Linked DNA regions of Homo sapiens. The protein of the gene in region 1 purifies or fractionates together with the protein of each later gene. This does not show direct contact. Each region holds a gene or a part of one and is shown in the gene's direction. Other genes may lie near its edges. The genes, in order: PPP1CB, RAI14, PPP1R12C, GSK3B, YLPM1, PPP1R2 and CCDC85C.

What was found.
Region 2: the proteins of PPP1CB (region 1) and RAI14 purify together in Homo sapiens (affinity purification with mass spectrometry; 3 studies listed by BioGRID and IntAct, with this or other methods). This does not show direct contact.
Region 3: the proteins of PPP1CB (region 1) and PPP1R12C purify together in Homo sapiens (affinity purification with mass spectrometry; 3 studies listed by BioGRID and IntAct, with this or other methods). This does not show direct contact.
Region 4: the proteins of PPP1CB (region 1) and GSK3B purify together in Homo sapiens (affinity purification with mass spectrometry; 3 studies listed by BioGRID and IntAct, with this or other methods). This does not show direct contact.
Region 5: the proteins of PPP1CB (region 1) and YLPM1 purify together in Homo sapiens (affinity purification with mass spectrometry; 3 studies listed by BioGRID and IntAct, with this or other methods). This does not show direct contact.
Region 6: the proteins of PPP1CB (region 1) and PPP1R2 purify together in Homo sapiens (affinity purification with mass spectrometry; 4 studies listed by BioGRID and IntAct, with this or other methods). This does not show direct contact.
Region 7: the proteins of PPP1CB (region 1) and CCDC85C purify together in Homo sapiens (affinity purification with mass spectrometry; 3 studies listed by BioGRID and IntAct, with this or other methods). This does not show direct contact.

Annotation. Positions count from the first base shown.
Region 1 is NC_000002.12:28,775,830-28,779,329, forward strand, and holds part of PPP1CB (serine/threonine-protein phosphatase PP1-beta catalytic subunit), read left to right. Parts: intron 1-1,021; coding exon 1,022-1,153; intron 1,154-2,979; coding exon 2,980-3,210; intron 3,211-3,500. UniProt on the Homo sapiens protein: Protein phosphatase that associates with over 200 regulatory proteins to form highly specific holoenzymes which dephosphorylate hundreds of biological targets.
Region 2 is NC_000005.10:34,806,328-34,809,827, forward strand, and holds part of RAI14 (ankycorbin), read left to right. Parts: intron 1-136; exon of another isoform or gene 137-155; intron 156-1,472; coding exon 1,473-1,530; intron 1,531-2,256; coding exon 2,257-2,327; intron 2,328-3,500. UniProt on the Homo sapiens protein: Plays a role in actin regulation at the ectoplasmic specialization, a type of cell junction specific to testis. Important for establishment of sperm polarity and normal spermatid adhesion.
Region 3 is NC_000019.10:55,093,638-55,097,137, reverse strand, and holds part of PPP1R12C (protein phosphatase 1 regulatory subunit 12C), read left to right. Parts: intron 1-802; coding exon 803-876; intron 877-959; coding exon 960-1,087; intron 1,088-1,197; coding exon 1,198-1,271; intron 1,272-1,534; coding exon 1,535-1,693; intron 1,694-1,779; coding exon 1,780-1,847; intron 1,848-2,339; coding exon 2,340-2,477; intron 2,478-2,702; coding exon 2,703-2,793; intron 2,794-3,500. UniProt on the Homo sapiens protein: Regulates myosin phosphatase activity.
Region 4 is NC_000003.12:119,823,135-119,825,447, reverse strand, and holds part of GSK3B (glycogen synthase kinase-3 beta), read left to right. Parts: 3' UTR 1-2,313. UniProt on the Homo sapiens protein: Constitutively active protein kinase that acts as a negative regulator in the hormonal control of glucose homeostasis, Wnt signaling and regulation of transcription factors and microtubules, by phosphorylating and inactivating glycogen synthase (GYS1 or GYS2), EIF2B, CTNNB1/beta-catenin, APC, AXIN1, DPYSL2/CRMP2, JUN, NFATC1/NFATC, MAPT/TAU and MACF1.
Region 5 is NC_000014.9:74,766,316-74,769,815, forward strand, and holds part of YLPM1 (YLP motif-containing protein 1), read left to right. Parts: intron 1-3,500. UniProt on the Homo sapiens protein: Plays a role in the reduction of telomerase activity during differentiation of embryonic stem cells by binding to the core promoter of TERT and controlling its down-regulation.
Region 6 is NC_000003.12:195,522,826-195,526,325, reverse strand, and holds part of PPP1R2 (protein phosphatase inhibitor 2), read left to right. Parts: intron 1-1,429; coding exon 1,430-1,507; intron 1,508-2,539; coding exon 2,540-2,634; coding exon of another isoform or gene 2,635-2,637; intron 2,638-3,500. UniProt on the Homo sapiens protein: Inhibitor of protein-phosphatase 1.
Region 7 is NC_000014.9:99,594,208-99,597,707, reverse strand, and holds part of CCDC85C (coiled-coil domain-containing protein 85C), read left to right. Parts: intron 1-3,500. UniProt on the Homo sapiens protein: May play a role in cell-cell adhesion and epithelium development through its interaction with proteins of the beta-catenin family. May play an important role in cortical development, especially in the maintenance of radial glia.

The DNA of each region.
Region 1 (3,500 bases):
GCAACATTCTGTTCCCCTTCATCCCACAAGTTACTGGAAACCATATTATCTTATGGCTCAGTAATGCAAAGATGCCTCACTCCATCTAAATAGCCTTTAGAGGTTTTAATATAATGATCTATTGGGAATGTAACGATAAGTTAATTTTTAATACATAGCTGATATCTTTTTTGTATTTCTTTTGATCAGAAAGTAGAGATAGGAGTTGCTAAAATTTTGGGGACTGCTGGTAACATTCCAAGAAAGTGTGTGAAGCTAAATCACCTACTGACAATTACTATTTAATCTCCCTTTCTTCATAGCACATTGTTCTTAATGAGGCTGTTTTGACATCCTACTAGATGCGAGATAAGCAGGCCAGACCTTAAAGGGTGCGGGCTCTGAAATGTTTTTTTGTGTGTGTTTTTTTTGTTGTTGTTTTTTTTCTGTTTGTTTGTTTTTTTTTTATTTGAGACGGAGTCTCGCTCTTGTTGCCCAGGCTGGAGTGCAATGGGGCGATCTCAGCTCACTGCAACCTCTGCCCCCGGGTTCAAGCGATTCTCCTAACTCAGCCTCCCAATTAGCTGGGATTACAGGCATGCGCCACCACACCTGGCTAATTTTGTATTTTTGGAGAGATGGGGTTTCTCCATGTTGATCAAGCTGGTTTTGAACTCCCGACCTCAGGTGATCCACCCACCTCAACCTCCCAAGGTGCTGGGATTACAGGCATGAGCCACCGTGCCCGGCCCTGAAATCTTTTAAGTCTCTTTGGCTACTAGGCCCCAGGTTGGTCACAGGACAGCAAAAAACAGGACTGCATTTCATCAACAGCAGACTTGAGGAGCATCATCAGGAACCAGTAACAATGAAAATAGAAGTCAGAGATCATAGAATAACATTATTTTAAACCATGGGACCAAATAGGGTAATTTGCTGCCTGTGTGACTTTTCTGATTTTTAAAGTATGGGCATGACTCTTTTTGAAAGATTATTATGAGTAAATTTTAGAAAACTGACTGTTTTATTTATCGTTTGTCAGTACGAGGATGTCGTCCAGGAAAGATTGTGCAGATGACTGAAGCAGAAGTTCGAGGCTTATGTATCAAGTCTCGGGAGATCTTTCTCAGCCAGCCTATTCTTTTGGAATTGGAAGCACCGCTGAAAATTTGTGGTATGTAAATGGGTAAAGTTGGAAACAACTCTTTTGAATCATGTTTTTCCTCCCATGTTTAAGATCTAGAGAAAACATTTTTTGAAATTTTTGTATAAAACAGATCAGTAGGCTTTACTAAATAAAAGTGTATAAAAATTGAAACTTATAAAAATGACAAGTTACAGACAAGATGAAAATACTTGCTATATATCAACAGATAAAAGGAGTTCTATTTATAATATATAAAGAGTTCTTATAAATAAGAGAAAGGCGATACAGTATAAAAATAACATAGGAAGAGGAAGGTCTTAGAAGAAATTCAAATGGCCAGTAAACATAAGGACGTCAGCTTCTTTTTTTAGTAATCAGTGATGTGCAATTTAAAGCAAGTCTCCAACTCTAGTCAGATTATAAAAAAATACCAAAGATTGATGTTTAGTGTTGTCAAGGATGTCACGAAAAGGGCATCATAGTACACTGGTTAGAAAAAAATAGGTGTATAATTTAGAGGGTCAATATGGCGATATCTGTGGTCTTCTAACTTTGATGTTATTTAAATTTGTTTTGAAGATTATACTACTTTATACCTTGTATTCTTTTAAGTTTTACAGTGACTTTTTTACAGTCCTTTGTACAGTGCCCAGCAAATAAGAGATACTCGCTAAGTAAATGTTTGTTTTTTGTTTGTTTGGTTGGTTTTTCTTTGAGACAGAGTTTCACTCTTGTTGCCCAGGCTGGAGTACAATGGCACAATCTTGGCTCACTGCAACCTCCACCTCCCGGGCTCAAGTGGTTCTCCTGCCTCAGACTCCTGAGTAGCTGGGATTACAGGTGTGAGCCACCACGTCTAGCTGACTTTTTGTATTTTTAGTAGAGACAGGGTTTCTCCATGTTGGCCAGGCTGGTTCTGAATTCCTGACCTCAGGTGATCCACCTGTCTTGGCCTCCCAAAATGCTGGGATTATAGGCATGAGCCACCGCAGCTGGCCAATAAATGTTTGTTGAATGGATCAGTTAACTTAGAATATCACACCTTCAAGTAAGAGGTAGTAGTTCAGAATTTGGGGGAACTAATCAATCCCCTGTATAAACTTAAGCAAATGTAGTTACTTAGAGGTGATCTTAAAATTATTAGAATTAAAGTATTCTTTGAAGGTGTTCTTTAAAATGTAATATAGAAATAACTTGAAGGTAATGGAAGTTATTTGTACTACATATTTCTAAAGGTTTACTATTTGTCTCCATATTTGGTGTTAAAAAGTGACGTAAGTTAAACTACCAGATAATAAAATTGTTTTAGTTACCTATTGTTGTATAATAAATCATTCCAAAACTTTGTGGCTTACAGCAACATTAATTTACCATCTCACAATTTCTGTGGGTCAGGAATTCAGGAACAGCTTAGTGGGTCCTCTGGCTCTGGGTCTCTCACAAGGCTCCAATTAAGGCGTGATCTCGGGCTGCAGTCATCTGAAGGTTGAACTGTGAAAGGATTCAGTTCCTTATAGACTGATGGACTAAGAGCCTCAGTTCCAAATGAGCTGTTGGTCAGAGGCCTCCCTCAGTTCTTTGCTACGTGGGATGCTTCATTAGACAGCTGGTTTCATCAGCGAGCATGGAAGAAGGTGAGAGAGTGCAAGCAAGATGAAAGTCACAGTCTTTTGTAACTTAATCTTGGAAGTGACAGCCCATCTCACTTTCGCTTATTAGAAGTAAGTCACCAAATATAGCCCATACTCAAGGGTAGGGGAGGATTACACAGGATGTGAACATTGGGAATCATTTCATAGAAGCTGCTTATAACAGTAACCAATTTTTCTAAAACTGACTCTTTCTCTTTTTAGGAGATATTCATGGACAATATACAGATTTACTGAGATTATTTGAATATGGAGGTTTCCCACCAGAAGCCAACTATCTTTTCTTAGGAGATTATGTGGACAGAGGAAAGCAGTCTTTGGAAACCATTTGTTTGCTATTGGCTTATAAAATCAAATATCCAGAGAACTTCTTTCTCTTAAGAGGAAACCATGAGTGTGCTAGCATCAATCGCATTTATGGATTCTATGATGAATGTAAGTGAAAATAAAGACTTAGAAAAGTAATTCATGGAAACATTGCCTAATAATTTTCTGGTTCAGAAGAGTTGCTTTGATTCAGAGTTTTTTCAAAATAAGATCTGTCAGGCATAGGCCAGGAAGAGGAACCTGAAACTGGGAAACATGTTACTAATTAAATTGGTTCCTTGAGATCTCCTTGGTCATATTTCAGATTGACTGCAGCTTACTTGGCTGAAGAGGCTCTTTTAAAATTAGTTTATCTAGTAAACTATCCAGGTGAAACAGAAGTCACTGTAGGCAGTGGC
Region 2 (3,500 bases), on another chromosome or scaffold:
TTCATCCTAAGTACAGCATGGAAGTGTGAGGGGCTTTTAAGTAGACAGTGAGAGTCACAGTTTTAAAAGAGAATTCTGTTTCTTTAGAGAATTGATAAAAAGGGGAAAAATGCAGAACTGGGGAGACGTGCCAGGAGGCTACCTTAGCTGTTCAGGTGAGAAGACGCTGTCCTAGAAAAGGGTGTCGGGAACAAGAAAGGGAAGAGGGTAGAGTGGAGGCGAGTTTTGGAGAAAAAAGTTGACAGGGCATGGTGGTCCACTACATGTGGGGTGAGGAAGAGGGGTCGGGGAAGGGGGTGGAGGATGAGGAGGAATCAAAGCTGAATCGCTGGTTTCTGGCTCAATGTCTAGACTGATGATGATGCTGTTGATGGAGAAGGCAGTCAGGGAGGAGCAGGTGGGGCACGGGGGAGGGGAAGCCAGAGATTTTGGCTGGGCCTTTGAGATGCTAATAAGACATCAGAGCAGAGATGTGAAGTAGGCAGTGGGTTATCAAGCCTAGCGCTTGAAGATGACAACTTTTGTGTATGAGTAAGAATACAGGCCCTAGCCCAGCCTGTCTGAGTTTGAATCTTGGCTCTGCCATTTACTGCGACTTGAGCAAATTATCAACTTTTTTGTGCCTCCGTTTCTTCATCTGAAAGTGGAAGTAATGATAGTATCCACCTCGTGTTGTTAGGGGACATAAAGCAGTTCTTTGAACAGTGCCTGGCACGTGAGAGCTAATACTTACATAGCACTTATTGTTGTCACTGTTAGGACCTCCGCATTTGGGAGTCACTAGCGTTCATTCTTCTAGATGATATTTCAGGTTGTGGGTGTGGAGGAGCTTACCAGGGAAAAGAGCTTAGAGGAAGAACACTGAGGAGCCCTGAGGTTTTCTGTTTGGCTAGAGGAGGAGCCGCAAGAGGAAAAGCAGAATAAGATGAGCCAAGCAGGGCTCTAGGAGCTGAGAGGTTGGAGAGAGGAGGACAGAAATGTTTATCGTCATTGGAAACATGAAGGTTTTTGGTGACCTTGACCAAGGCCATCTCCTTGGACTCGAGAGGGGACACCCAACTGCAGTGGTTTTGGGAGTGAATGGAGGTGAGGGTGCGTGGACTGCATGTGGGTAATCCTTAAGAGAAAGCTGGTTTCGTGAAGGGGGACAGAAAGGGCAGGAGATGGGGGAAAAGAAAGGATTAAGATGAGAGAGCCTAGAGTATGTCTATTAGCTGGTGGGGTGCTGGAGTGATGAGGGAAGGAGAGGAACAGATAGGTGAAGCAGCAAAGAGGGGAGAGTTTGCCCATCCCAAAGACATGAGTCTCCTTCCCCATAGGAGACTGTAGGCCCCTGGAACACAGCAGCTGGGGCTTATTTATGTTAATAGTCTTCCTAATAAGTCACATCATACCTTGCAGGAAAAGTCTGAACTGAATAGAATTGGGGCAGGGTATTTTATTATATGGATGTATTTATTTTTGTCTTATAGTCTAAATGCCCAGCCGAAAGTGTCGACAGCTCTGGGAAAACAGCTTTACATTATGCAGGTAACTTTCATTCTCCTATTTGTCTTCTTCTGCCATTAGAAACACCAACTTTTCTTTTTCCTTATTCAGGCCATTAACCTTCCATACTATTCCTGGTGCTCTTTTCTGTCATCATTTCTAAACATTCCCATTTTACTCTGTTTGTAAAACATACACAGTTTTACCGAGGCATATGCCTAGAATTCATCAATTCCTTTGCCACCTAACCACTGAAAATTATCACGATTAATATATTTTAACTAATTTAAGGTTTCTTTTTAAACTAAGAGATATTCTAAGCATTTGTAGATTTCAGGTAATGTGTGATACAGACTTTTTGATTTGAGGATTATTATGAACATCAGTCAATTTTATTTACTAATATTTTGTTTAGTATGATTACACAACTTGAAGTGACAAACGTTGACACTGAACTATGAGTGATTAGATTTACACATGTGTTTTATTGCTAGTTGTGGAAAAGCTAAGTCCTGTGAAAACCTGAGCCAAATATTTGCCTAAAGGCAACTGGCAGTCATTGGCTTTAGGCCTGCATAACTCTGAAATTAAGCAGTAATTTTAAACACCTCACTCCTAACCTTCCTAATACCATTTCTCTTCAATGCAACTAGAGTGAATATATGTAGAGTGGGTAGAACATGAACATTTCCTTCCTGAAGTATCTGATACCCCTGGTTGTGAATAACTGTGTGATTGGCTGTGGTATTTATATTTTCCTTCCCCCAGCGGCTCAGGGCTGCCTTCAAGCTGTGCAGATTCTCTGCGAACACAAGAGCCCCATAAACCTCAAAGATTTGGTAAGTACCAGGTGGTCACTAGAGGCAGAGGTAGACATTGGTTTCTAGAGCTCAATGGGATACCTCTAGAGTCACTGAGACTTTAGACTAGCAGTCTCCAACCTTTTTGGCATCAGGGGCTGATTTTGAGGAAGATAATTTTTCCATGGATGGGGGTGGGGATGGTTTCAGGATGAAACTACTGCAGCTCAGGTCATCAGGCATTGGAGTGCACAACCTAGATCCCTCACGTGCTCAGTTCACAATAGGGTTTGTGCTCCTATGAGAATCCAGTACTGCTGCTGATCTTATAGGCAGTACTGCTCACTCGCCTGCCACTTACTCCCCGCTGTGCAGCCAGATCCTAACAGGCCACAGACTGGTACTGATCTGCAGCCCCTGGGTTGGGTACTCCTGTTTTAGACAACTAAGTATTGGGCAAATTCTATTGCTTTTCAACCTAGATTCTCTTCTGCAAAATGGATTTATGTATTACTCTTAACCCTTTTCCCATTTGCTCCAAGAATACTCACCAGTGGCGTTTGGGGATACAGCATTTACCTCAAGATAACTTTGCCACGAAATATCTCATTTTTATTATTATTATTTTCCCATCACTCTAGTGTATTGACTTTGGAAACAAAAGACATCATTCTGTTTATAGCATTCTGTTTTTAGTAGTGGTATTTCCATTTACAAAATGTAGTAATTCTCGACCACTGAAAATGTCAAATCCTAGAAAACGTAGCATTCCTATGTGTGATGTTAATATCGTTCTCAAAGAGATCTTGGCTGAAGATTCATTTGATGAATCCGATTTTTCTGAGACAGATGATTCTGGTGTTAGTTCTGTTTAGAAATAACTCCAAGAACAGTTTTTATATTTTATTTTCACATTGAAAATCAGTCAGATTTTCTTCAGCCTCAAAGAGTGTGTTTATATAAAATTAAATGAGCTCTGGCAGAGAGCTGCACTTTTTTTTTTTTTTCTAAACTGGGAAGAAGGTTAATTAGCTTCTAAAACATTAGTAAAACATTTTGCAGCATATATTTCCTATATAGGTATATTTATTTCTACGGCTATACATGTTTTCTACCATCAATGTAATTACAAATAAAGCTTAATTTCTTGATTTTTAAAAATAAGTCTAAATAGAAATTTTACTACTTTCTTTCTGCACTTGGATAACTTCT
Region 3 (3,500 bases), on another chromosome or scaffold:
TGGGGAAGGGGTGAAGACGGTGGTGAACTGCGAACTGCGCGGGGTAGGGGTGAAGACGGTGGTGAACTGCGGGGAAGGGGTGAAGACGGTGGTGAACTGCGCGGAGAAGGGGCGAAGACGGTGGTGAACTGCGCGGGGAAGGGGCGAAGACGGTGGTGAACTGCGCGGGGAAGGGGCGAAGACAGTGGTGAACTGCAGGGAAGGGGCGAAGACGGTGGTGAACTGCGGGGAAGGGGCGAAGACGGTGGTGAACTGCGGGGAAGGGGCGAAGACGGTGGTGAACTGCGCGGGGAAGGGGCGAAGACGGTGGTGAACTGCGCGGGGAAGGGGTGAAGACGGTGGTGAACTGCGCGGGGAAGGGGCGAAGACGGTGGTGAACTGCGGGGAAGGTGTGAAGACGGTGGTGAACTGCGCGGGGAAGGAGGAGGCGAGTGCCGGCTGCAGGAGCCGGGGCAGCTGAGGGCCCACCAGTGCCCTGGGTATGCTGAGGGGTCGGGGTGAGGTCTAAGCAGGTCTCCCCTGGGAGCTAGAAGGACCCCTCTGGGGATGAGACTGGAGGCTTCTCATGGGTGGGGGCCGTGAGGACAAGACGGCAGTGCCTGCACGTGGCAGCTGCGGGCGCCTGCTGGACGCAGGGCACCTCCTGCCCCTGAGGTGTGTGGCCATCTGTAGGAAAACCAGTAAGCCCACGAGCCCTCGGTGCCCGCCTGGGCAGTGAGCTCCTGCACAGCTGTTTGTGGTGGTGTTGCTGTGGGGCACGTGTGCTCCACCCCTCCCCTGCAGCCCCCTTCCCTCCTTGCAGCTTCGGAACCAAAAAGAAGCTTCCCAGAGCCGGGGCCAGGAGCCCCAAGCGCCCTCTAGCAGCAAACACAGAAGGTATAGGGAGGGAGGAGTCCAGGGCTGGCGGGGTGGCTGGAGGCCCCGGGCTTGTACCCCAGCACCCTCTCCTTCCCCAACAGGAGCTCTGTGTGTCGTCTGAGCAGTCGCGAGAAGATTTCCCTCCAGGACTTGTCCAAGGAGCGCCGGCCTGGTGGGGCTGGGGGGCCCCCCATCCAGGACGAGGATGAGGGGGAAGAAGGTCCCACCGGTGAGGGGCCTGAATCTGGACTCCTGGGTCCGAGGGAGGAGGGGTCGGGTTCTCTGAATCTAGAGGCAACTGGCATCTTCTGTGACCTGCCCGGTGTTCCCACATCACAGAACCACCCCCTGCAGAACCCAGAACCCTCAATGGCGTCTCCTCCCCGCCGCACCCCAGCCCTAAGAGTCCCGTGGTGAGTGGATGCCCTGAGAGGTCCTGTGAGGCTGGGAGGGCCCGGAGGTGGGATTCCATACAGCCTGTGAACCTCTGGCAGGGGCAGATAGGGGGAAGACTATAGTTCCCAGAGTCGTCCTGGACAACCGGCTTCCTTTTTAGGCTGTGCCTGCCCCGGGGGCTGATGGGAATTGTAGTTTGTTGCAGTCCTTTGGGGGCTAACCCTTGAGGTCTGAGAAGAGGGATCCTTTCTCTCTAACTGAGACCTCCTCCTTCTCCCAGCAGCTTGAAGAGGCCCCCTTCTCCAGGCGCTTTGGCCTCCTGAAGACAGGGAGTTCTGGTGCCCTGGGTCCCCCTGAAAGGCGGACAGCGGAGGGAGCCCCTGGGGCTGGGCTGCAGCGCTCGGCTTCCTCCTCCTGGCTGGAAGGGACCTCCACTCAGGTGAGTGAGGGTTGGGCCGGGTCCAGGCCCAGGCCCCTGCCCAGTCGAGGGAACTGCCCCTTCCTCCCCTTCTCCTCTCCACACAGGCCAAGGAGCTCCGTCTTGCCAGAATTACCCCGACCCCCTCCCCGAAGCTGCCGGAGCCCTCTGTCCTGTGAGTCCCCAGGGCCTGGGCCCCTCAGGGGTGGGTGGCAGATGTGGGTTCCAAGCCTGTCCGTGTGATCCTGAGTGAGACCATGTACCCCCTGGGGTCTGGTTCCTGCCGCCACTCCAGAGCCTGTGCTGTGTTCCTCTTGGGGGCTCTCTCCCTCCCTCAGGTCTGTGTTGAAACGTCACCTTCTCCCCTATCTTCCCCCCACCCCGAGGTGCACACTGACCACCCTGCTGCCACCACGGCGCCGTCCGCACACGCACACCCTCCCGCTCTCAGTTCTCGCACTGCTGCTTCTGTCCAGAGTCCTTTATCCTTCTGACCGGTTGCGTAGTGTGCTGGTCTTTTCATGGCTTTTGTGGGTTTTGTGTATTTCTGCTCAGCTCTGACTCTGTTGTGGCCCAGATAATTTGTTTCTTTCACTCACGGCTGCATCTCCAGTGCCGGCACACAATGCACCTGGGTAATGTTTGTGGAATGAATGAATTGATGCAGGTCTGAGGTCACCAAGCCTCCTCCTTGCTTGGAGAACTCCTCGCCTCCCTCCAGGATTCCGGAGCCTGAATCCCCAGCGAAGCCAAACGTCCCCACAGCCTCCACGGCGCCCCCAGCGGACTCCCGGGACCGACGGAGGTGAAGAGGCCAGGGCAGGAAGCTGCCGCCCCCGCCCCCAGCAGGGAGAGACGATGTGAAGCAGGAGTCCCGGGGCTTTGGGTGGGCTCCTGAGGGAGAGCTGGCCTCAGGTCTGCTGGGAGTTGGAGTCCCCTCCCACAGAACTTGCTTCCCGCGGAGGGTGTCAGCCACGGAATGGGACAGGGTCCCCAGGTTCCCTGTCTGAGGTTGGGACCCTTCCCTCAGGTCCTACCAGATGCCTGTGCGGGATGAGGAGTCGGAATCCCAGAGAAAAGCTCGCTCCCGTCTCATGCGCCAGTCTCGGAGGTCCACACAGGTGTGGGGTGGGCTGGGGTCTGGACTCCTGGGTCTGAGGGAGGAGGGGCTGGGGCCTGGACTCCTGGGTCTGAGGGAGGAGGGGCTGGGGGCCTGGATTCCTGGGTCTGAGGGAGGAGGGGCTGGGGCCTGGACTCCTGGGTCTGAGGGAGGAGGGGCTGGAGGTCTGGACTCCTGGGTCTGAGGGAGGAGGGGCTGGGGCCTGGACTCCTGGGTCTGAGGGAGGAGGGGCTGGGGCCTGGGCTCCTGGGTCTGAGGGAGGAGGGGCTGGGGCCTGGACTCCTGGGTCTGAGGGAGGAGGGGCTGGAGGTCTGGACTCCTGGGTCTGAGGGAGGAGGGGCTGGGGCCTGGACTCCTGGGTCTGAGGGAGGAGGGGCTGGGGCCTGGGCTCCTGGGTCTGAGGGAGGAGGGGCTGGGGCCTGGACTCCTGGGTCTGAGGGAGGAGGGGCTGGGGTCTGGGCTCCTGGGTCTGAGGGAGGAGGGGCTGGAGGTCTGGACTCCTGGGTCTGAGGGAGGAGGGGCTGGGGCCTGGACTCCTGGGTCTGAGGGAGGAGGGGCTGGGGTCTGGGCTCCTGGGTCTGAGGGAGGAGGGGCTGGGGCCTGGGCTCCTGGGTCTGAGGGAGGAGGGGCTGGGGTCTGGGCTCCTGGGTCTGAGGGAGGAGGGGCTGGGGCCTGGGCTCCTGGGTCTGAGGGAGGAGGGGCTGGGGT
Region 4 (2,313 bases), on another chromosome or scaffold:
GCATGAGAAGAATGTTTCCCCCACACCCAGTTAAGAGTTTTTGTGTCTGTTTTCTTTGTGTATCAGTGAACGATGTTAAGAATCAGTCTCTCTTTTTGAAGAAAAAGCAATATTCCTTGGAAAGCAAGGAGAATTGAAGGACTATGTTTGCCGTGAGGAAATAGATTTTCATGACTAGTTTGTTTTATACTTTTAAGGTTGGCATCTATGTGGGCCTTATATACTCTAAAATGAACTTTAGTCACCTTGGTGCTTATGGGCCATTACTTGACCTATGAATCTTTAAGGCACAATCAGTTGTACTTTACATTTAAAGATCACTTGAGTGATGGCCGCCTTTCCCTCCTACCCGCTCCTTCCCCACATGCCTTCCAAGGTTAGCTGGTAACTGTAGGGCTGCAGAGCTGAGCCCATGGTTGTGTGTAACTTGCCCTCACCCTCCTCATTGCCACCTTAGGTCACTTTATGGGTCTCGTCCTCCAGAGGGTTCGGAAGTGGAGTCTGTTGGCAGCCCTCCTGCAGGCCCTAGCACCCTGTCCTGCTCCTTAACTGTGTGTGTGACTCTCCAAGAGAGTTGTCCTGCCTGCTGAAGTGAACCAGTACCCAGAAAGACAACTGTGAGCCATCTTGGTTTTCACTCGCTGTTTAGCTGAGGTCTTGGGCCACAAAAGGGGTTTCACAAACCTCTGGATATATCAGAGTTTATGAGAAAGGAAACATGCTCAGTCAAACCAAATCAAACAAATTGAATTTTATGTTTTATAAAGTGCTTCTGAAAGCTAAGATTTGAAAGAAGTCTGAAATCAAAGTATTTGGCAGCATAACTCCTTAAAGGTAGTGGCGTTGATAGACCATTTTCAGACAGAATTTATAAAGAATCTGAAAAGGCAGGTCTGTGATAGAGAAATGGACCTGCATTCAGATCCAACTGCCCAGCAAGCGTTTGGATGCAGACACTGCTCTGGACGTGGTATACTCCCCAGAGTCCATAAAAATCAGTGCTTATTTTAGGAAACAGGTTGCCCCCCACAACTGGGGTAAAAGAAGAGAGAAAAGTCACGCTTTTCTCTCATTTCATTGTGTGTGCATGTGTGCGTGTGTGTGTGTGTGTGTGTGTGCTGAGATGTGTGATTTTTCTTTCTCAAGGATCATGGTGGGATCACAGAACTCTTTTATACAAGTGAGATCCAGGTCTCTGAATATCTTTTTGTATATAATAATAATAAAAAGCTCCTCACCAAATTCAAGCTTGTACATTATATTTTCTTTCTGTGTTTTTAAATTTAAGTTTTATTGTTTTGTATGTAAATATGTGGACCCAGGAACTGTTATTAATGAGCAAAAAGTTACTGTTCAGGGCAGTGATTCTGTTTAATAATCAGACAAAATGTAGACGAGCTTTTTAAAGCCATATAGTTTTAACTCTGTACAGTAGGTACCGGCCTGTATTATTGTAACAATAACTCTAGCAATGTATAGTGTATCTATATAGTTTGGAGTGCCTTCGCTTCCATGTGTTTTTTTTTTTAATTTGTTCTTTTTTAAATTTTAATTGGTTTCCTTTATCCATGTCTCCCTGTCCACCCCCTTTCCCTTTGAAATAATAACTCACTCATAACAGTATCTTTGCCCCTTCCACAGTTAAGTTTCAGTGATACCATACTCAGGAGTGGGAAGAGGAAATCATATTCGTAATTTCATTTCGTTGAAGCCCTGCCTTTGTTTTGGTTCTGAATGTCTTTCCTCCTCGGTAGCAGTGAGACCGGTTTCATTTCATACTTAGTCCATTCAGGGACTTAGTGTAGCACCAGGGAGCCCTAGAGCTGGAGGATATCGAATAGATTAAATTTTGCTCGTCTCTTCCACAAGCCCTAACCATGGGTCTTAAAAACAGCAGATTCTGGGAGCCTTCCATGCTCTCTCTCTCTCCTCTTTTATCTACTTCCCTCCCAAATGAGAGAGTGACAGAGAATTGTTTTTTTATAAATCGAAGTTTCTTAATAGTATCAGGTTTTGATACGTCAGTGGTCTAAAATGCTATAGTGCAATTACTAGCAGTTACTGCACGGAGTGCCACCGTGCCAATAGAGGACTGTTGTTTTAACAAGGGAACTCTTAGCCCATTTCCTCCCTCCCGCCATCTCTACCCTTGCTCAATGAAATATCATTTTAATTTCTTTTAAAAAAAATCAGTTTAATTCTTACTGTGTGCCCAACACGAAGGCCTTTTTTGAAAGAAAAATAGAATGTTTTGCCTCAAAGTAGTCCATATAAAATGTCTTGAATAGAAGAAAAAACTACCAAACCAAAGGT
Region 5 (3,500 bases), on another chromosome or scaffold:
TCATATTTTGTTTTTGGAATGTGTCATTCAAAATTTCTTATCGTGAAATATTTTTAAAATACACAAAATAGAGAAAAAAGTATGATTCCCCATACATACCCATCATTGAGATTCAACAGCTATCAAGATTTTGCCATGTTTACTTCACCTAGGCCTTTTTTATTATTGTTGCATATATATATATTGAGACAGGGTCTTGCTCTGTCAGTCACCCAGGGTGGAGTGTAGTGGCATAGTCTCAGTTCACTGCAACCTCTGCCTCCCAGGCTCAAGCCATCCCAAGTAGCTGGGACTACAGGTGCATGCCACCATGCCTGGCTATTTTTTTTTTTTTTTTTTTTTGGTAGAGACGGGGTTTTGCTATGTTGCCCAGGCTGGTCTTGAACTCCTGAGCTCAAACAGTACACTGCCTTGACCTCTCAAAGTGCTGGGATTATGGGCATGAACCACCACACCTGGCCTCTGCTGAAATATTTTAAAGCAAATCTTAGATCTTATGTCATTTCATCCCTACATTCTTAGTCAAGTACCTCTATAAAACAAAACAAAACAAAACCAAGACCTTTTCTTTTTTTTTTTTTTTTTTGAGATGGAGTCTCACACTGTTGCCCAGGCTGGAGTGCAGTGGCGCGATCTTGGCTCATTGCAACCTCTGCCTCCCGGGTTCAAGCGATTCTCCTGCCTCAGCCTCCTGAGTAGCTGGGATTACAAGTGCATGCCACCACGCCTGGCTAATTTTTGTATTTTTAGTAGAGACGGGGTTTCACCATGTTGGTCAGGCTGGTCTTGAACTCCTGACCTCATGATCCAGCTGCCTTGGCCTCCCAAAGTGCTGGGATTACAGGCGTGAGCCACCGTGCCCGGCCAAGACCCTTTCTTAGATAAACACATTGTTAACACCTAACAAAGTTAACAGTTTCTTGGTATCATCTAATACCTGATCCGTTCAGATTTCCTTTATTGTTTCATCATACTAATGAACTAAAAATAATTCTTTGATACCATCCATGTTAAAATACCCCAAATTGACTCAACAGTGTTGTTGTTTTCTGTCCTCACAGTCTGTTCCCAAACAATGTTTTTTTGGTGTGTTCAAGTCAGAGTCCAAACAGAATACTGAAAAGATTCTTAGTATAGATCAGGGTTTCTCAGCTTCGGCACTATGGACATTTTGGGCAGGATGATTCTTTGTTGTGGAGGGGCTTGTCCTATGCATTGTAGGATGTTTAACAGCGTCCCTGACCTCTACCCATTAGATGCCAGTGGCAGCCCCCAGTCCGACAACCAAAAATGTTTCCACACATTGCCAAGTATCCCCTGGAGACAAAATTACCCTCTGTTGAGAACCCTTGACCTAGGTCAGTCCCTCCTATTTTCTTTTTCTACCTCATGTCTTTGAACTTGATGAAAAATCTGTTGTCAGTTTTCCTGTAGAATGTCTGACATTCTGCATTGTCTGCTTTTTCATGGTGTCACATTTGACTTGTTCCTATGTCTTCCACATTTTTTTTTTTTTTGAATTAGAAGTTAACTCTGGAACCTTCATTTAAGTTCAGCTTTCTTTTGGCAAGTGTTGCATTCCTCATGGGACACCCGATGCCTGGTTGTCCCACTGTTAGTAATGCCATTGGTCCCTCTACTGTAAAGCTTTCTATCAATCTTGCATCTAATGTTTCAGTCTACTGGTTCATCAATTGAAGAAAGACCTTGCCTAAGTAAATTATTTCATTAGACAGAGGTTGCAACCTGGTGATTTTTTTTTTCTGCCATTTCTTCCACAGTTACTATATGGAGTTATGTAAAGAAAAACTTTTGCCACAGATATTTGATTGGAAATACAGTTGGTATAGGAAGGACAAGATAAATACTTGATATTTTTCCAGGTGTTTTCTAGTTTTTCGGGTAAAGTGTTGATGATTTAATGGAATGTGTTTTTTTGTTTGTTTGTTTCTGAGAGAGAGTCTCACTCTGTCGCTCAGGCTGGAGTGCAGTGGTGAAATCTCGGCTCACTGCAACTTCCACTTCCTGGGTTCAAACAATTCTGCCCTAGCCTCCCAAGTATATGGGATTACAGGTGCATGCTACCATGCCTGGCTAGTTTTTGTATTTTTAATAGAGATGGGGTTTCACCATGTTGGTCAGGCTGGTCTCGAACTCCTGACCTCAAGTGATCCACCTGCTTCGGCCTCCCAAAGTGCTGGGATTATAGACGTGAGCCACTGCGCCCGGTCGGAATGTGTCTTTTTGAATAATTAATTTTTCTATGTGTTTAAAGGACTGATTTATTTAGTTAAAGCTGTTGGCTTTGATTAGTTTTTAGAGGTATCATTTATTTAATGTTTAAATACTTACGGACTAGCAACTATGTGCCAGGTACTATGAGTACTGTGCTTAATACTGGAGATGAAATGGTTAACAAGATAGACATGGGACCTGCCCTCATTGACTTCTTGTTTCAGTTGTGGGGGAAGGGAGAAGACATTTAGTAAGTAATTAAGAGGAGACGTACAGAGTGCTATGGGATTATAAAATATCACTAGATTATTCCCCAAGGAACTGGCAAAGGCAAGTTTTTTGTTTTTTGTTTTTTTTTTAAGTTACCACTGTATTCACAGTACCTTGCATAGGATCTAGCGCATAGGAGGTGGAGAACAAATATATTTTAAATAATTGAATATAGCTGGGAGCGCTAACCTAATTAAAGAGGATTCCCTTTGTAAAGTGATATTTTTTATTTTTTATTTGTTTTTATTTTATTTTATTTATTTTTATTTTTTTGAGATGGAGTCTCGCTCTGTTGCCCAGGCTGGAGTGCAGTGGCGCGATCTCGGCTCACTGCAACCTCCGCCTTCCGGGTTTAAGCAATTTTCTGCCTCAGCCTCCCTAGTAACTGGGATTACAGGTGCCTGCCACCACGCCCGGCTAATTTTTTTGTATTTTTATCTTTTTTTTTTTTTTTTTTTTTTTTTTTTTGGAGACGAAGTCTCACTCTTGTTGCCCAGGCTGGGGTGCAATGGCACGATCTCGGCTCACTGCAACCTCTGCCTCCCGGGTTCAAACAATTCTCCTGCCTCAGCCTGCCTCAGCTACTCCCAGGAGTAGCTGGGATTACAGGCGCCTGCCACCACGCTTGGCTAATTTTTGTATTTTTAGTAGAGACGAGGTTTCACCATGTTGGCTAGGCTGGTCTCGAACTCCTGACCCCAGGTGATCTGCCTGTCTCAGCCTCCCAAAGTGCTGGGGTTACAGGTGTGAGTCAGAGTGCCCGGCCATTTTTTTTTGTATTTTTAGTACAGAAGAGGTTTCACCATCTTGGCCAGGCTGGTCTTGAACTCCTGACCTCGTGATCCACCTGCTACGGCCTCCCAAAGTGCTGGGATTACAGGCGTAAGCTGCCACGCCGGGCCTGTAAAGTGATATTTAAATGAACTCTAAAGAATAAGTAGGAGGACTGGGTGCTCACACCTGTAATCCCAGTTCTTTGGGCTCATTAGAGGCCG
Region 6 (3,500 bases), on another chromosome or scaffold:
AGGAATTGGAGATGAGCCTGGGCAACATAGAGAGACCCCGTCTCTACAAAAAATAAAAAGAATTAAGCCAGGAATGGTAGCACATGCCTGTAGTCCCAGCTACACAAGAGGCTTAGGTGGGAGTATCACTTGAGCCCGGGAAATTGAGGCTGTAGTGAGCCGTGATGGTGCCACTGTACTCCTGGGTGACAGAATGAGACCCTGTCTCAAAAAAAAAAAAAATTTTATTTAAGTGAAGATGCTTTTTATAGAAACATCATGTCTTATTATCTAAGAATCTCACAGTTAGTATACAAGAAGTTATTGCTTCTGTATACATGTACATATATAAACATAATTCAGTAAATTTTACAACTAGAATTTTCTATAGAACGATTCTATAAATTAACAAAATGTTTATTTTACCTTACTTTGCTTGATTAAACTCAATAACATAGATCAATTTCAACTTCCCTTAGAAAAAAGAACGTCATCTAAACTATAGACTTACTTGTCACCTTAATTAACCAGGAAATGTATAAACTGGCAGTATTTTATAAATAGCTGAGTTCTGCTTTATATACTTTGCAGTGGCTTAAGAATTAAGGTTGCCCATTTTTGCATTGAAGTGGGGAGCAAATTTTTCATTAGAGGGTAGAGTGAGAAAGCTAAATCACTTGTAAACTTCCGAAATTAGATCTTTGGGATCGAATTTTGTTACTTTACTCAGTCTTGTGTCTGCGTAGATCTTTTGTCTCTATCTTAAGATTGATGTAGAAATACATGTTCTAAAACCAGACAGTGATTTACTTTGCATTACTTGTTCCTTCCCACTGGATGGAATAATTGGAACTTTGTAGTATTTTTTTTTCCAGATCATTTACGTTTTCAGTACAGTTATTCCTCATTATCCATGGAGGTTTCAGGACCTCCCTCAGATACCGAAATCCTCAGACACTCAAGTCTCTGATATAAAATGGCATTGTAGATGTATATAATTATGCACATCCTCCTGTATGTGTTAAATCATCTCTGTGTTAGTTATATTACCTAATAAAATGTAAATACTGTGCAAATAGTTGTTACACACTGTATCATTTAGGGAATAATGATAAGAAAAAAGTCTACATGTTTAGTACAGAGGAAATTTTACTTTTCTCTGGCTATTTTCAATCCACGGTTGAATTCATGGATGTGGATCCTGTGGATATGGCAGGCAGACTGTATTTATGTGTTTTTTTTAATCATTTGGAGTCTTTTCTTGATTGGGTGCTGTACTTTTAAGTATTTGTATTGAATAGGAACTATATAAAGTTAAACCTCAAAGATATCAACAGAGCTATAAATATATTGATATGTTAAGTAGGTTGATGGAATTGTTTTTCTCCCTTGTTTTTGTGGCTGAAAATGTATGTTTCAGGTATTAATTACAATGTGCTTGTCATACTAGTATGATGGGGGATGATGAAGATGCCTGTAGTGACACCGAGGCCACTGAAGCCATGGCGCCAGACATCTTAGCCAGGAAGTAAGTACTAATGACCGGAGCACATTTTCACTTAGGCTGTTTATAATCGTGCAGAGTTGAAAGCAGCCTGCGTGGCTGTCCCTGTATGAGCGGGAAGAAAAGGCTGTTGATCAACATGTTTTATGCCGACTTTTTTTTCCTTTTTTCCCCCTTTTTTCACCTTCTGAGTCACCAACTTTTATAGTCTTGTCTCTTGATTAAAATCAAGGTATGTAGGTGGCAGGAAGACCAGCGTACCTGCACTTGGGATACTGAAATGTGTCACTTCCCTGTGGGGGGTTTTATTTGTTTTCTGAGACAGAGTCTCGCTCTGTCATTCAGGGTGGAGTGCAGTGGTGTGATCTCAACTCACTGCAACCTCCACCTCCCAAGTTCAAGCAATTCTCGTGCCTCAGCCTCCCCAGTAGTAGCTGGGATTACAGGCCCATGCCACCAAGCCTGGCTAATTTTTGTATTTTTAGTAGAGACAGTGTTTTGCCATATTGGCCAGGCTGGTCTCGAACTCTTGACCTCAAGAGATCCGCTGGTTTCAGCCTCCTAAAGTTCTGGGATTACAGGGGTGAACCACCGCGCCTGGCCCCTGCTTCCTGTTTTTAAAGGTAGCAGTGAGAAAGGCAAAAATAAGTTAATTCATAAAAGCACTCTTCCTTTGCTACTTACTGATTTCTAGCACCCATTCCACTGTTCTTGTCTATGCCCATTTCTACTCTTTTTATTCTTTTTTTTTTTTTGAGACAGGGCCTTGTTCTATCACTCAGGCTGGAGTGCAGAGGCGCAATCAAAGCTCATTGCAACCTCAAACTCCTGGGTTTAACTAGTGCTCCCACCTCGGCCTTCCAAATAGCTAGGACCACAGGCGTGTACCACCATGCCCGGCACGTTTCTGCTCTCTTGCCTTTTATTTTCCTCATCAGGTTATAGCTAGCACATTAATGATCTTCAGATGTTTTTGTAAGAATCAACAGTTGAATAAGGCGCTTAAATAATATCAAAACATCACTGTTAATTTCTTTGTACATGATTGTTGCATAGATTAGCTGCAGCTGAAGGCTTGGAGCCAAAGTATCGGATTCAGGAACAAGAAAGCAGTGGAGAGGAGGATAGTGACCTCTCACCTGAAGAACGAGGTAGTTTATTTCCTTTACTGCTTTCATCATGGTGCTAGTAATTTTTGCTAAGATAAATCCATTATTTGGAAGATGAGCAAATGGTTTTCATTTTGGGGACACACAGGGGAGGAGAATGAAAGCAACATCTTTATAATTCAGATACTACTTGTGTGTTTTGTTGTGTAATAGTTTTTTACCCCTGATTTCAAGAATATGGGGAAGTATTACCATCTTTAAAGTAATTATAAGTATTATTTTCTTTGTACTTTTTAGTGCAGAGTAGATACTCAGTAAATACTTTTTAAATTAATGCATTTCAAGTCATTGAGCGTTTGGACGGTCTTAAAGTGGGTAGCTGAAAGAGCTAATTTCCCAGTTGCTTATGCTTTTTGTGTTGTTGGACAGTGATGCAACTTAACAAATGAACCAAGATGATCAGATGCAGAGTGAAGGTCTTTATTAGGTCCCATCAATCAAAAGGAGCAGTAGTGTCACAGGAAGGGAGATGGAGACAGCCCTCCCCTTCACAGGGATGGAAGAGGGTCTCGTAGGCCATTCAGCACATACACATTTAAGGCATTGCTGCCTGCTCGTGCTTTCTGTTTCCACAAGTAAAAGTGGTTACCCGTGGAGGCTGGGAGAAAAGGAGTATGTCTTATCTTGTTGCATTTTATACTTTTTGATTCATGTGAATATATAATCTTCTCAGGAGTTAAAAAATTGTGTATAGTTTATTTGCAACTATTTTTAAAGGAAAATCCAAGCTTGTGGGTAGAGGGGAAAGATATAAGAAAAGCACATACTCACAAAAAAGAGGAAGAAGGAAAATATGGTAGAAACCTACTTGAAGTGTTGTGGCGTAGGGACTACCTCCTGTACCGTGA
Region 7 (3,500 bases), on another chromosome or scaffold:
GCATTGAGAATCCGGGGCCTGCAAGGTGGACCCAGGATGTGTGTGGGGAGATAACTCTTAGGGGGGTTAGTGCTGTGGGCAGCCCCACAGGGCAGACCCCAAAGTCCCAGCTTTTCAGACTTCAGTGCCCACAAGCAAGAGTGGCCCAGGTGGCCTGTGTTGCCTCCAGGGCTGGGGAGCGCTGTGTCAGGGGAGGTTGCGTGGACACTGAGAAGGGGCATTCCTGAATCCACTGAGGATGGGGCTTGTGGACACCCCAGACAGCTCTGGGAATCTGGTTGAGATGTGGGTTCTAAGACACGCCCCACATTACAACTGGGAAGGGAAAATGCCCAGCTTTGAATGTGTGTGTTCAATCCAATCTGGTTGAACCCAGAGCCAGGTGGGAAGCGGGACTTGACCTCACAGGTGGTAATTTGCTCTTCAGGAGGAAGGGAAGCGTCTGCGGACTTCACTGAGCATTTACTGCCTCTGAGGTCTGAGTGCCTCCTGAGCAGTGATTCTTGGAGTCTGGCTTGGGGGGTGGTGGTTCTGGAGCATCACTCTGGTGACCACTGTGGTGTGGGCTGGGCTGGGGGAGCAGTGGGTGGAAGCTGAGGGCTTCCATCGGGAGGAGGTTCTGGCCAGGAGAGTGGCCACAGGAGAGAGCCTTCTGTAGGTTCCAGACCTGGTGAGTCTGCTCCAAAGTCCTGCTCTCAGCTGCTATCTGCCTTCTCATGACCTCTGTCCTCTAGGGCAGGCGTCCTGAGCTCTTGGGTGGGGCTCAGGCAGGACAGCGCCTGTGGGAGATGCTGCCGCTCCCAGGTGGCTGCTGTGCCCTCCATCCCCAGCGCTGATGCTGCTCCCCGCTACTCCCATCCCTACATCTAGGGTGGTTGGGATCAGCGTCTGGGATCTAGGCAGGGACCACTCTGGGGTTCAGAATTCTCATCTCCCTGCTACATAACAACAAGAGACTCTATTGGCATCCCCAAAGGCTTGGGGATAGAGGAACAAACTTGTCTGCTAAAGGGACTTGATGCTTCTTTGATCATAACATGTCAGAAATGGTCCCCCTCCCCTAGGCAAGCACCCAGGATTGGACACTCATACATCCCCTGTCCTCACAGGCAGAGGGTTCTGGGCAGGCCTGGAGCCGGGTCAGCCGGGGATGGGTGCCTGTTCTTCAGCAGGTCACCGCTGACCTCCAGCTCTTGAGGGGAGCAGAGCAGAAAGATCAGGATTGTATTGACTGCCTGTAAGTGTTCTTGGGTTTGCCTTATGTGTACTGTTCAAACAGAGGCGTGGAGCATGTTTAACTACAGTAGATGGCCCTGGGGAGGAAGCGAGGGTCTGATTCCCTTTCCTTCTTCCTGATTCCTCAACGGCAGAGACATTCTGCCATTTCCTCAGTTCAAAGCTGGGCATTTTCCCTTCCCAGTTGTAATATGGGGCGTGTCTTAGAACCCATGTGGACATTTGCTGGCAGGTCTTCCCCTCTCTGCCCCTGGAAAAGCCCTTGAGTAGACTGTGTCTGCGGCTGATGGTATCTGAGAGTGGAACAAATGCCAGGCCCGGGAGAGCCGGAAACCCCTGAGCAAACTTCACAGAGTCCTAAGGCACTAAGAGACTTGAGAAAGACAGGGGCCCACCCCAGGGCCAGCCACATGGGTGCTGGAGCCCTCCCTGCCCACCTGGGGCCCTCTGTCATTACTGTCTCTTCATCTGGGAGTTTATGAGCCTGGGACTCTGGTCCTCTTGACTCCCAGCCTTGGCACAGAGTGGCAGGTTCTGAAAGTCTTTTGGATGGAACAAACGTGTGCCTGGCACTGTGCTGACAGCAACTGGGTTTTCTCTCACTCGCCTCCCACAACAGTTGCTGGTCCCCATTGGGGTCCCTGTTTCATCTAAGGAACAGGCCCAGGATGGTGAGGCAAGTTACAGCAGGGGCAGGGTGGGGCTGGGCCAGGTCAGGGACTCCCGTCCAGTTGAACCCGGAGCCTGTGCCAGCCGGTATGTCCCGGTTCCCTTGCCCTGTGGGTGTGATTATTCATCATGCCCCTTTCCCTCAAGGAAATGCCCAGGTTGGGCTCTTAACCTCTTCAGGTGTGCTGGGAGCTCAGAGGAGGGGTGGCCGAATTGGGAACTGAGATGGGCCTTGAAGATGGAGTTAGTAAAAGCAGAAGAGAGCAGGTAAGAAGAGAGACCAGGCTTCGCAGAAAGAACAGCTGAGCTGGGCGGATCACCTGAGGTCAGGAGTTCAAGACCAGCCTAGCCAACATAGTGAAACCCCATCTCTACTAAAAATACAAAAATTAACCAGGTGTGGTGGCACGCGCCTGTAATGCCAGCTATTTGGTAGGCAGGAGAATCTCTTGAACCCAGGAGGCAGAGGTTGCAGTGAGCCATCGCGCCACTGCACTCCAGCCTGGGCCACAGAGCAAGACTCATCTCAAAACAAAACAAACCAAAACCAAAACCAAACGAAACCAAAACAAAAAGAAGAGCCGAGCAAAGTCATGCGGTGGGCATTTGCCTGCACCTTGGGTTCAGCTGGGGTGATGGATGAGTGGGGACCCAGGACAAGCACTGGGGCAGTGAGCAAGGCCAGGGCCGGTGGGGTCTTTGAAGCCTCTTCTACTGTCCCTGAAGTCCCTAGGTTGGGCTTTCCTTCGGGGTGTGGGCAGTTCTAGCTCTAACCTTTTCTGATGGACTTTCCAAGAGGACCCAGAGTTACCTGTTAGAAGTCCTATTAGAAACTGGAAACTTTTTACAGCTTATCCCCATCTTTCCCCTGCTCCCCACCTGATAAATATGCAGACACATCACCTGCTGGGCCTGAGTGGCCTTGTCAGCTGACATGCTCCCTGCCTGGGGGTCTTGGAAGATTACTAGTGTTCTGTGGATTGGACGATCCAGACAGAACCAGTGGCTTCAGCCCACTTGAGACCCAACCATGTGTAAGTCTGTGCCTCTCCCTGGGCCCTCATTTTCCCATCTGTAAAATAGGAAGCTTGGATGGGCTGAGCTGAGAGTCCCAGGGACCCTCATCTCTTCTGGCCCTTTGACTCAGAGCCACAAGGAAGGGGTGGCCTCCCCTGCCCATCCTGCCTCCTATCGGTCACTCAGTGGTCCTATGAGCCAGCTCTTTTATATTCCTGGGAATTCTCTTCCTATGCCCTACAGCCTGGGTTTTATCACCTGCCTCGTGGTTGGTCCTTGCCTTGGGGCAGGTGTGGGGATGGTGAGGCTACCTGTGACCACATGGGTCCCACTGTGGGGCCTAGAGATGGTGACCTGTCTAAACGCTGTTTGAGGCTGAGACCCTGGCCCAGACCAGCCTCCCCTCCTGCAGGGCCCCAGTGGAAGTACCTGCCTCCCCTATCTGATTGCCTCTGCTTAAAGGACTCAGTAAGGGGTTTAGTGCAAGAGGAGAACACTGAGCTTCAATTCCTGGTGCAGGTTTGCTGGGGACAAGGCTGCATGTTCCTGGACTCGAGGTTCCTCTGCTTGCTGTCCTG